Linked DNA regions of Homo sapiens. The protein of the gene in region 1 interacts with the protein of each later gene in a biochemical or structural test. Each region holds a gene or a part of one and is shown in the gene's direction. Other genes may lie near its edges. The genes, in order: PKMYT1, CDK1 and MAPK8.

Region 1 (2,804 bases):
ACCTTTGTTTGCTGTGTGCCCTGGGCACCATGCCCAGAGGCTTTCAGTGCTTGCTTTTGAATAATCGTCATCAGTTGTGCTGTTTCACTGGGGCAGGGGTCCACGGAGCTGCACACACTGCCATTCTGGAAGTGGACACCACTAACTGGGTTTTGGCACGACAGTTATGAAAAAGAAAGACACTTGAGGGATTCCGGGTTTTCACTTTGGAATTGGAGATAAGGGATCGTGGGCCCGTGTAGTCTCGGAAGAGGTTGTGTAGTTTAGGATCAAAGAGCTGGCCGTGATGAGGGCAGGGATGCAGGCGCAGCCCGTCTGACTCCAAACTGCCTTGCTCTTAACCCGACTGCAAGACCCTCAAGAACACGGGCCCCATGGTTTTCCTCTTATGTTTCTATCATCTCTAAAATACAACAGCCTGGTGGGCAGGTGAGTATGAATCTGTCCTCTGCCTTTTCTTGGTAGGTGCTTATTGCTCCCATTGCCGTTTAAAGTAGAATAAGTGTGTGGTATAGACATAGCTCTCTTCTGTGGCCTCTTTGGAGCCACAGGGCCAGGTGGTATCAGAGTGGACATGCTGCCCTGTACTCAGCCTCTGTCTCTGCCCCCAGGGCCTCCTGCACTGGCCATGCCCATGCCCACGGAGGGCACCCCGCCACCTCTGAGTGGCACCCCCATCCCAGTCCCAGCCTACTTCCGCCACGCAGAACCTGGATTCTCCCTCAAGAGGCCCAGGGGGCTCAGCCGGAGCCTCCCACCTCCGCCCCCTGCCAAGGGCAGCATTCCCATCAGCCGCCTCTTCCCTCCTCGGACCCCAGGCTGGCACCAGCTGCAGCCCCGGCGGGTGTCATTCCGGGGCGAGGCCTCAGAGACTCTGCAGAGCCCTGGGTATGACCCAAGCCGGCCAGAGTCCTTCTTCCAGCAGAGCTTCCAGAGGCTCAGCCGCCTGGGCCATGGCTCCTACGGAGAGGTCTTCAAGGTGAGTGAGGGGACGGCTTCTAGGCCCATCTGGGGGACCTCCTTTGTGTTTCTGCACCTCCCTTGGCAGGACAGTGTCCTGGGCAGCCTGATCCCCTTCCGTTCCCTACAGCCTGTCCCTGCTGGGCTCACAGGCTCCCTCCACATTTGACTTGGCTGCTCCCATCATCCCCAATGCAGGCCCCTCCAGGGGTTGCTCTGTGCATACTGGCCCCTTGTCCAGAGTCTGGCACGCCCTGCAGCAGCCCCTGTGCCATCTCCTCCGGCCCTGGCGCCAGCTGTGCAGCGTCCTTGGCGAGTCGGCCCAGCCTCTGGCACTGGCCCTGAGTGCAGTGCCTGGCCAGCCCTCCCCAGGCTGGCAGGCTTTGAGCTACCCCCTGCCTGCCATCTTGCTTTTCTTAAACACAGTTTCCAGTCATTTATATTTTCTTTTAGAGAGGAGTTTTCCCTTGTATGAGTCCTGTATGAAGACAATTTTGTTAAAAAGTACAAACAACATTGGCCCCCAGGTCAGCTTTCTCACAGGGGAGCCCACTTTTCACACCACAGCCTGGGCTGCCTGTGTTGCTCTGCAGCTGCTTTTTCCACCTCGTGACACATCCAAGAGGTCCCCTGGGGTCAGTGCAGGTCGGCCCTGGCTCCTCCGTCGCTGGGTCTCCACAGACCCAGCCCGAGGGATGGAGGTTTGTCTGGTTTTGTTATTACCCTGGGCAGGGGTCTGAGACAGATGCCAGCTACACCACCGTGCCCCGTGTGTGAACCCTTAATGGGGTCTGCCAGGTTGTCCCCCTATGTGATTGTGCCACTTGTGGCTCACCCTCACTGTGTGCGTGGGTACCACCTCCCTTCCAGGTGCGCTCCAAGGAGGACGGCCGGCTCTATGCGGTAAAGCGTTCCATGTCACCATTCCGGGGCCCCAAGGACCGGGCCCGCAAGTTGGCCGAGGTGGGCAGCCACGAGAAGGTGGGGCAGCACCCATGCTGCGTGCGGCTGGAGCAGGCCTGGGAGGAGGGCGGCATCCTGTACCTGCAGACGGAGCTGTGCGGGCCCAGCCTGCAGCAACACTGTGAGGCCTGGGGTGCCAGCCTGCCTGAGGCCCAGGTCTGGGGCTACCTGCGGGACACGCTGCTTGCCCTGGCCCATCTGCACAGCCAGGGCCTGGTGCACCTTGATGTCAAGCCTGCCAACATCTTCCTGGGGCCCCGGGGCCGCTGCAAGCTGGGTGACTTCGGACTGCTGGTGGAGCTGGGTACAGCAGGAGCTGGTGAGGTCCAGGAGGGAGACCCCCGCTACATGGCCCCCGAGCTGCTGCAGGGCTCCTATGGGACAGCAGCGGATGTGTTCAGGTGGGGACCGGGGCACGCCAGGTGTTTGGCAGGCTGTGGGAGGCCCTTCCTGGGACGGAAGCTCCATTCCCCAGGAGGGAAGCTCCACCCTAGCCCAGGACACCCGGCCTCAGAGCCACAAGGCTGAGACGCCATCCCTGCCCTCCAGTGGAGAGCGTCTCTGGTCAGGCTGCCTGTGAGCCTCGAACCCTCCAGAGCCACTTTGTGTAACCTGCCTCCTCACAGCTCCACAGGAGAAACAATTGTCACTCCATTTACAGCCAGATTAAGGGCCTTGCCGGAGCCCACTGCTAGCAAGTGGCATAGCTGAGACTGGCCCTAGGTGCTGGGTTCCAGGGTCCACACTGGTAACCACTGCCCTGATCATCAGGATAGTAATACCTGCCAGCAGTAACTGTGGTGCCTGTCCATCAGGGCACTGGGAGGACTCACCACTGTGGCTTGTGGGCTCCCTGGGCACAGAGCCCATATTCCATGATG
Region 2 (3,500 bases), on another chromosome or scaffold:
TAACACGAAAGATATGATTCAATTGAACAATATTATGGAAAGCATTTGTTATGAGCGCTTTAACTCAGAAAACCTTCAAATGTTTATCATTTGAACATTGTATTATTACTATGAACACTGTCTCCAAAACCATCTCTTCACCAGCTCCATCTAATGCCACTTAACTCTTAATTTGGATTTCTTTGATGTCCTCAAATGTATCCTGTGATTTGGCCTATGAGTTTTGGCAATGGCTGTTCTTTCTACCTGGAGGCCAGTTTCTACTGGCTTCATTTTTTATCTCCTCCTCTAGTCCAAGAGCATTTTGTAGTTCCCTTTGCATCATACCATAGGATCCTTGAGGGCTGGGGTTTTTGTCTTGTTCACAACTGTTTGCCCACTGCCTATCAGTAGTGCCCAACCCACAGGAGATAGCCAAATAGATAATAATAACATCTGTTTTCCTTGTTTGCTCTTCTGAACACTGTTGTTTCTTTTTCTGGCTTGTATTGTCATTTCTACTCCAATGCCTGATTGTTTTGGATTATGTGCTGGATATTGTTTTGGAAAAAGGAACTTGTGGAAATAAATGGAGGCCTAAATGATTCACACAGAATTTTCTTTTGGTTCTGCCAGGTATCTGGTTAAAGTCTAGTATTAAAATACTACTTTAAAAGTTATATTTTTTCCCCTCAACTTTTCATTTTGAACATCTCCAAATCTATATTGAAAGATTTATGCAATGAACTTGTAATATTTTTACCAAGATGTTGGTGTTTTGTCATGTTTACTTTATTATCTGTATGTATGTTAGCATTATTTTTTATTTTTTTCATTGACATTAATTCTGATTTAGAACAGTCTCTGCCTTTTCTCTCACTTGACAGTGAGTCTTGACAACCTAATTCATTTCTTAAATACCTCCAGACTTTACTATTTTAAATATTACAAAAATTGTTCTCTGGTTTCTTCTGAATTACAGAAATCTGAGTGTTGTGATACTAATCTTTGAAATCCTTCCTGTCTTAAGAAAATGTCTTTTTGGATCATAGAGTAGCAGTATCCATGATGGTGGAACCTTGCCTGGCATTTAGTAGGCATTTGATAAATACTTGCTTAATGAAGGTTTTCTGCTTAAGGGCCTCCATAACTTGATCATATCCTACATATTTTTCTTTTGTTTCTTTTTGTTTCCTGGGATAAATCTTCCATTAGACTTAGACTGATCTCCTTCTAGGCTTACCTGTGTTAATGATTTTTGCCTCCTTAGTTATTTATACTTAGTTAAATACCCTAGAGTATTTCTGTCTTTAGAATTCTTAGTTCATTTTGGAGGATATGCCATGTATTTCAAAAATAATTTTGGATGATTAACCAATAGAAAGTTCTGCTTTGTTTAACCCCTCTTCCAGTAGTTCAGTGAGAAGTGATATTATCTCTAAAATTCAACACATTGAGTGTTGGCCACTGGTTAATTGTTAATTCTGAAAATTATTTAGGATTAGATGAGATTGTACACTTGAGGGAGAAGAAAGGATGCTAGAAAAAAAATTAGTTCTGAACTTACCATTAACTGTTTATGTGACTGTATTATGCAAGTGACTAATTTTCCTGAGATCACTTAAACAGTATGCCAGATGATTGTGCTACTGGTTTACCTACTTTTTGTGTTTAATGAGAGCTGAATTTACATCCAAAAAAATGTAGATTTTAAGTATATGAAGGTTGCCTACTTTTAAGGATGGCTGTGAGGATTAAATATAGTCAATTCTCCTTTAATGTAGAGTAATTTTGGTTATCAAAAAGTTATACATTAATCCACAATTTAATCAAAATAGTATAAAATGACTCATGTCAGTTTATAGTTTTAAAATGACACCAGTATTTAAGAAAACATAGACTTTTGTATAGAGGTTCTGTCAAAAAAATTAAGCTTAAGTAGCATCAATTTGCTACTGCTCAAACTGCTTAATTTTTTAACCAAGCAGTTGGTAATTTGTTGGTTGTTAGCCTTTTTTAAAATATTGCTACTTTCAGAGAAACTCATAAAAGCTATAGAAGAGGCCTTCTTCCTAGAACAGTGCACTCTAATCACTTTTGAAGTTAAACCAATGCCATGGAAAGCAAGCTATTCAACAAAATTTTGTGTGTACTTAAGGGGTTCAGGACCTCCCTAAACTCCAACTCGAGTTTAAAAAGACTTATCTAGGGAATTCAGCCACGTATATGACAGATTTTAGCTAGTCTTCTCCCTTATTGCCATTTCATTCCCTGTATCCACCTCCTCCCTCCCTGCTATCCCTTATAATTGATATTGTTGCTCATTACCTGAAGCCCATATATCAAAATCAGTATTTTCATCAACTTGCAAATGGGTGTGAGGCTTTCCTAATATGTAGTACATACAATGTGCTTTATTAGGTTTAATACACAAACACCTGGTCTTTTTTCTCCATTCTTTTGAGAATGAGGACTGTTGACTGTATTTTGAGATACAGATAAAAGTGTTTTGAAAAGCATAAAGCACTCTACAGTATTTTCTGAAAGTGTCATAATGACTTTTATCAGTAATATTTCCTGAGCCCAAATTTTTACACTATATTTTATGCCCACTTCGTTGCAGGGTAGGATATTGACAGAAGGTTAATTTTAATTTGCAAATGATCTATTTTGTTCTGTAAAATATGCTGGAACATTAATGGTAATTTAGATGTATAGAAAACTTGTGATGACTACATGAATTTTATTTTTAAGCCATACAGATTGTAGTTACTCTCAATTTCTTTTTGGAAGCAATGAGGGTATGAGTAAGATACTTCCCATATGGCCACACCAGACATTTCTATCATGTGACCCTTATGGGATTCAATGATCTTGAAATCCTTTAGTTTGACCAGGTGCGGTGGCTCACGCCTGTAATCTCAGCATTTTGGGGCGGCGAGGCAGGTAGATTGCTTGAGCTCACGAGTTCCAGACTGGCCTGGGCAACATGGTGAAACCCCATCTCTACCAAAAAGACAAAAATTAGCCGAGTGTGGTGGCATGTGCCTGTAGTCCCAGCTACTTGGGAGGCTGCCGTGGGAGGATCCCCTGAGCCCAGGAGGAGGAGGTTGTAGTGAGCCTTGATTGACCCACTGCACTCCAACCTGGACAAGAAAACAAGACCCTGCCATAAGGAAAAAAAAAAAGAAAAAAAGATCTTTAGTTTGTGGGGTGTGTCACACAGCATATTATTTACTTTGTTTCAGGTACCTATGGAGTTGTGTATAAGGGTAGACACAAAACTACAGGTCAAGTGGTAGCCATGAAAAAAATCAGACTAGAAAGTGAAGAGGAAGGGGTTCCTAGTACTGCAATTCGGGAAATTTCTCTATTAAAGGAACTTCGTCATCCAAATATAGTCAGGTATGTTGTAATATCTGAATGTAAGCCATTTTCTGCATGCTATTTCAAATATAAATTTCAACTTGGAAATCTTTACATTTGCTCAATTTCTTGGTCTAGCCTTACTGAGTGGACTA
Region 3 (3,735 bases), on another chromosome or scaffold:
GAAAGTACAGAAATTAGTCAGGTGTGGTGGTGCACACCTGTAATCCCAGCTATTCTGGAGGTGAGGCATGAGAATCGCTTGAACCCGGGAGGTGGAGGTTACAGTGAGCCGAGATTGCACCACTGCATTCCAGCCTGGGCGACAAAGCAAGACTCTGTCTCAAAAAATAAAATAGAATAAAAAATGAACTGACATATGGTTCCTCTTTAGTTAAGAATTATGTAGATCACCTTCTTGCCTTCCCACTCCCACCCTAGGAAACGGAGTCAAATGTAATGCTTAATGATTATAACTACATTAGCCAGCAAGGTTAAACATAAGTACTTCCTCCTTTTAATGACACCTCACACTCATTTTATTTATCTTATTTATTTATTTATTTATTTATTTATTTATTTATTTATTTTTGAGATGGAGTCTCACTCTGTTGCCCAGGCTGGAGTACAGTCATGCCATCTTGGCTCACTGCAGCCTCCACCTCCTGGCTTCAAGCCATTCTCCTGCTTCAGCCTACGAGTAGCTGGGACTATAGGCATGTGCCACCATGCCTGGCTAATTTTTGTATTTTTAGTAGAGACAGGGTCTCATTATGTTGGCCAGGCTGGTCTTGAACTCCTGACCTTAGGTGATCCACCTGCCTCAGCCTCCCAAAGTGCTGGGATTACAGGAGTTTGAGCCACAACGCCTGGCCTCCCACCCATTTTAACAACTTTGCTTTATGTACCTTTTATTGCAGGCTACTCAGAGCATTTTGGAAAGCAGTGTAATCAATATATTTTTAACTGCTTAATAGACTAAGCAGTTAGTTTACAGCTAGAGTTGTGCATGAATCAGACTTATGTTCCTAGTCTTCACTGGCCCAGATAATATCTTCTCTCATGCTTGCAGCTTTCAAAATACTTTTGTTTAAAAATGAGCTTTTCTGAAAGTTACCAAATAAGTTGTAAGCTGGATATTTAAAGTTTAACATTCTCTATAAAATCTGTAGAGAAGATTTATTCTAATAGATTTTTGTCAAAAACGGAAACCTTAGAAAAAATTTTTCTCTGAGGCACTAATTTATAAATATTAAATTTTTTTTCTAAAATCTTATCCTTGAAAGCTGAACCATGACATAAATATGAAAATATTCATTCATTTTAATATGACATTTTAGGGAAACTTTAGTTCCACAGTATTTCCAAAAGTAATTTCCAGTTTAGCTCTTAAGACTCTTCAGTGAACTGGCAGCCTTTTAATAAGAATGTACTGTATTAGAAAGTACAGGCTTTAATTTTCTAAGTCCTTTAACATGAGTAAAGGGCACGTGTCTTTCTGACATCTATTTGTGCCGTTTTCCACTTGTCATTTTAAAGAATTGGGACCTTCAGATGTCACAACTAAATGCAAGTTTCTAAGGCTTTTCCTTCTAAATTGCTCATTCTTCCCTCTTTTCCTGTTACACTGCAAGCACTTACTCTCTCCTTTTTGTGTGATGTTCAAACCCAAAGGCATAAAATGCCACGATGTGTTGTCAGTTTCCCTTAGTAAGTGGAGATTCCAAATTGTCTGTTTCTGTGTCTAGCAGATTCTTGTCAACATTGATTGGGATTCCCATTTACAGTTGGCAAGGGTCATCAGTAAGTCTTCCAGGAGACTCTTCATACTCAATTCGTGGGAACTGACTTACTGTATCTAGCCAAAACTAACTTCTTAAGCCAAAAGCAGTTTGGTTTTATGGGTTTAAAAAACTTTAGGTAGGAAACATGAAATACATTTCTCTTACTAAGTTTTCCTTGATTAGTTGTTCATTCTCTGTGCACTTGTTCCTTTTGGGATAGTAGGGTAAATGTAGCATGATGTTGCCAAGAAAACAAATGGACTTTTAATTCAGAACAAGCATAGCACTTCTCAGTTAAATGTATTTGGGAAATCCAGTTTAAAAATTCCAAAGAGCTTTAGATTAACTTTTTTATCATAATTATTCATAGAGATTATTTCTGTTAGATATTTTAATATGCTGAATTATTTTCTCATGCTTTTTTCTTAGAGAGTATAATGCACAGTTGAACTTCTAAATAGTATAGTATAACAATTTTATTTTTATAATTTTACTACCTCATGTACATTTTTATTTACAAAGTTTGTGTTTGGTTCTATTTCATATTTTATAAACAAGTTCTCAGGGACAAACATGCAGGGTTTTTCTATTTATGCAATTTCTGTGCATAGCTCTCACTTTGAAATTAGATATGTAGTTAAAATGCCACACTTTACATTTTCTTTTGTGAACCAGACTTTCAAAAAATAATTTGTGTTTTAAATTATTCCGTTAGCTAAAGTTACAATCACTTTTTTTCTTTTCGTGACGTTTTGCAGTTTTTATATAATGCAGTCATATTATGCTTCTTTGATTTTAATGACCTTTTGCTTTGCTTTTCCTTCTTTTGTGCTGCAAACATATAGTGGATTTATGGTCTGTGGGGTGCATTATGGGAGAAATGGTTTGCCACAAAATCCTCTTTCCAGGAAGGGACTGTATCCTTGTGCTGCTGCAGCAGTTAATTAGTTAGGCGATGAACTTCTTTATGTTCTCTAATGAAAATGAATATGCTACATTTACACAGATGGGTTTTTAAACAGGCATAAAGTTTGTGGCTATTATAGTTCAAAAATTGTTGAGATAAGAAGCTGAAATATTTGTAGGCTGCATCTGGCAGTAGGACATACAGTCTCTGCTGGTAGTCAGAGCACATTCACTGTCACTCATTTTTATTTTATACTGCTTTTTATAATTTTAAAGTATACATGGTGTGTGTGATTTTATTTCTTTCTTTTTTTTTTTATTTTAACCAAAATCTTTATGTTAATGTCATTGCATTTTGTTTTCAGTTGACATTTGGTCAGTTGGGTGCATCATGGGAGAAATGATCAAAGGTGGTGTTTTGTTCCCAGGTACAGATCGTATCCTTATCTTTGGCCTAAAATGTAGTTTCTAAAGGTCAAAATGTATGATAGCACTTCAGTTTGGTCAGGTATAATGTATTTTGTCTCTCCCTAATATATTGTTAAATTACTCTTAAAATACCACCTACTATTTGACATAGACTTTTCCTTCCGTTATTTATTGTTTCATATGTTAATTCTGAACCCTGCTCAATTGTAATTATGCACAATTACTTGCTGGCTTTGAGTTGATTTAACCTAAATCAAAAATCATGGCTTGCATTAAAAATTTATAATAATTATACACTTAAGTCTAGAAATACGTACAACTTAATATGAATTTTGGAGCTGTCTGTTGCTTCTGGCCATCCTTTTGTTTTGTCCCCTACCTCCTTTTTGTTAATGTTCTGTGTGGTTTGTGTCTTTTGATTGTTGTCTCATTACTCACATAACATACTGACCCTTTCATCTGAGAATTTCAGCAGTAGTAGTTTTGTATGGTAACGATAGCTTTGGATTCATACTTTTTGTTCATCCCACTACTTTTAATATTTATATTAACAGTGATTTGTTATGTGTTTACCAGCTAGTAACACTTAGAATTGTTTCAGGAGGAAGAATGGGAAAAGGCATATTCACAAGGTTACAATAAGTGAGTTTTAGGCCTTGGCCTTCAGGGTCCTGGAGTGTAAAGACTAGAGGAAAGGAGACCAAGAAATCCTAACCTTACAACTTAGCAAAAAACTGAATCTTTTTTATAAGGGTCAGAGCTTTAGAAAATTTTTTTAAACCTAAGCTAAACAAAGAATG

The links.
Region 2: of the proteins of PKMYT1 (region 1) and CDK1, one has a biochemical effect on the other in vitro, tested with the Homo sapiens proteins (2 studies listed by BioGRID and IntAct).
Region 3: the proteins of PKMYT1 (region 1) and MAPK8 form a complex in vitro, tested with the Homo sapiens proteins (one study listed by BioGRID).

Annotation. Positions count from the first base shown.
Region 1 is NC_000016.10:2,974,839-2,977,642, reverse strand, and holds part of PKMYT1 (membrane-associated tyrosine- and threonine-specific cdc2-inhibitory kinase), read left to right. Parts: exon of another isoform or gene 1-574; coding exon of another isoform or gene 575-611; coding exon 612-979; intron 980-1,830; coding exon 1,831-2,324; intron 2,325-2,804. UniProt on the Homo sapiens protein: Acts as a negative regulator of entry into mitosis (G2 to M transition) by phosphorylation of the CDK1 kinase specifically when CDK1 is complexed to cyclins. Mediates phosphorylation of CDK1 predominantly on 'Thr-14'. Also involved in Golgi fragmentation.
Region 2 is NC_000010.11:60,781,478-60,784,977, forward strand, and holds part of CDK1 (cyclin-dependent kinase 1), read left to right. Parts: intron 1-3,227; coding exon 3,228-3,384; intron 3,385-3,500. UniProt on the Homo sapiens protein: Plays a key role in the control of the eukaryotic cell cycle by modulating the centrosome cycle as well as mitotic onset; promotes G2-M transition via association with multiple interphase cyclins.
Region 3 is NC_000010.11:48,421,643-48,425,377, forward strand, and holds part of MAPK8 (mitogen-activated protein kinase 8), read left to right. Parts: intron 1-2,445; coding exon 2,446-2,517; intron 2,518-2,871; coding exon of another isoform or gene 2,872-2,943; intron 2,944-3,735. UniProt on the Homo sapiens protein: Serine/threonine-protein kinase involved in various processes such as cell proliferation, differentiation, migration, transformation and programmed cell death.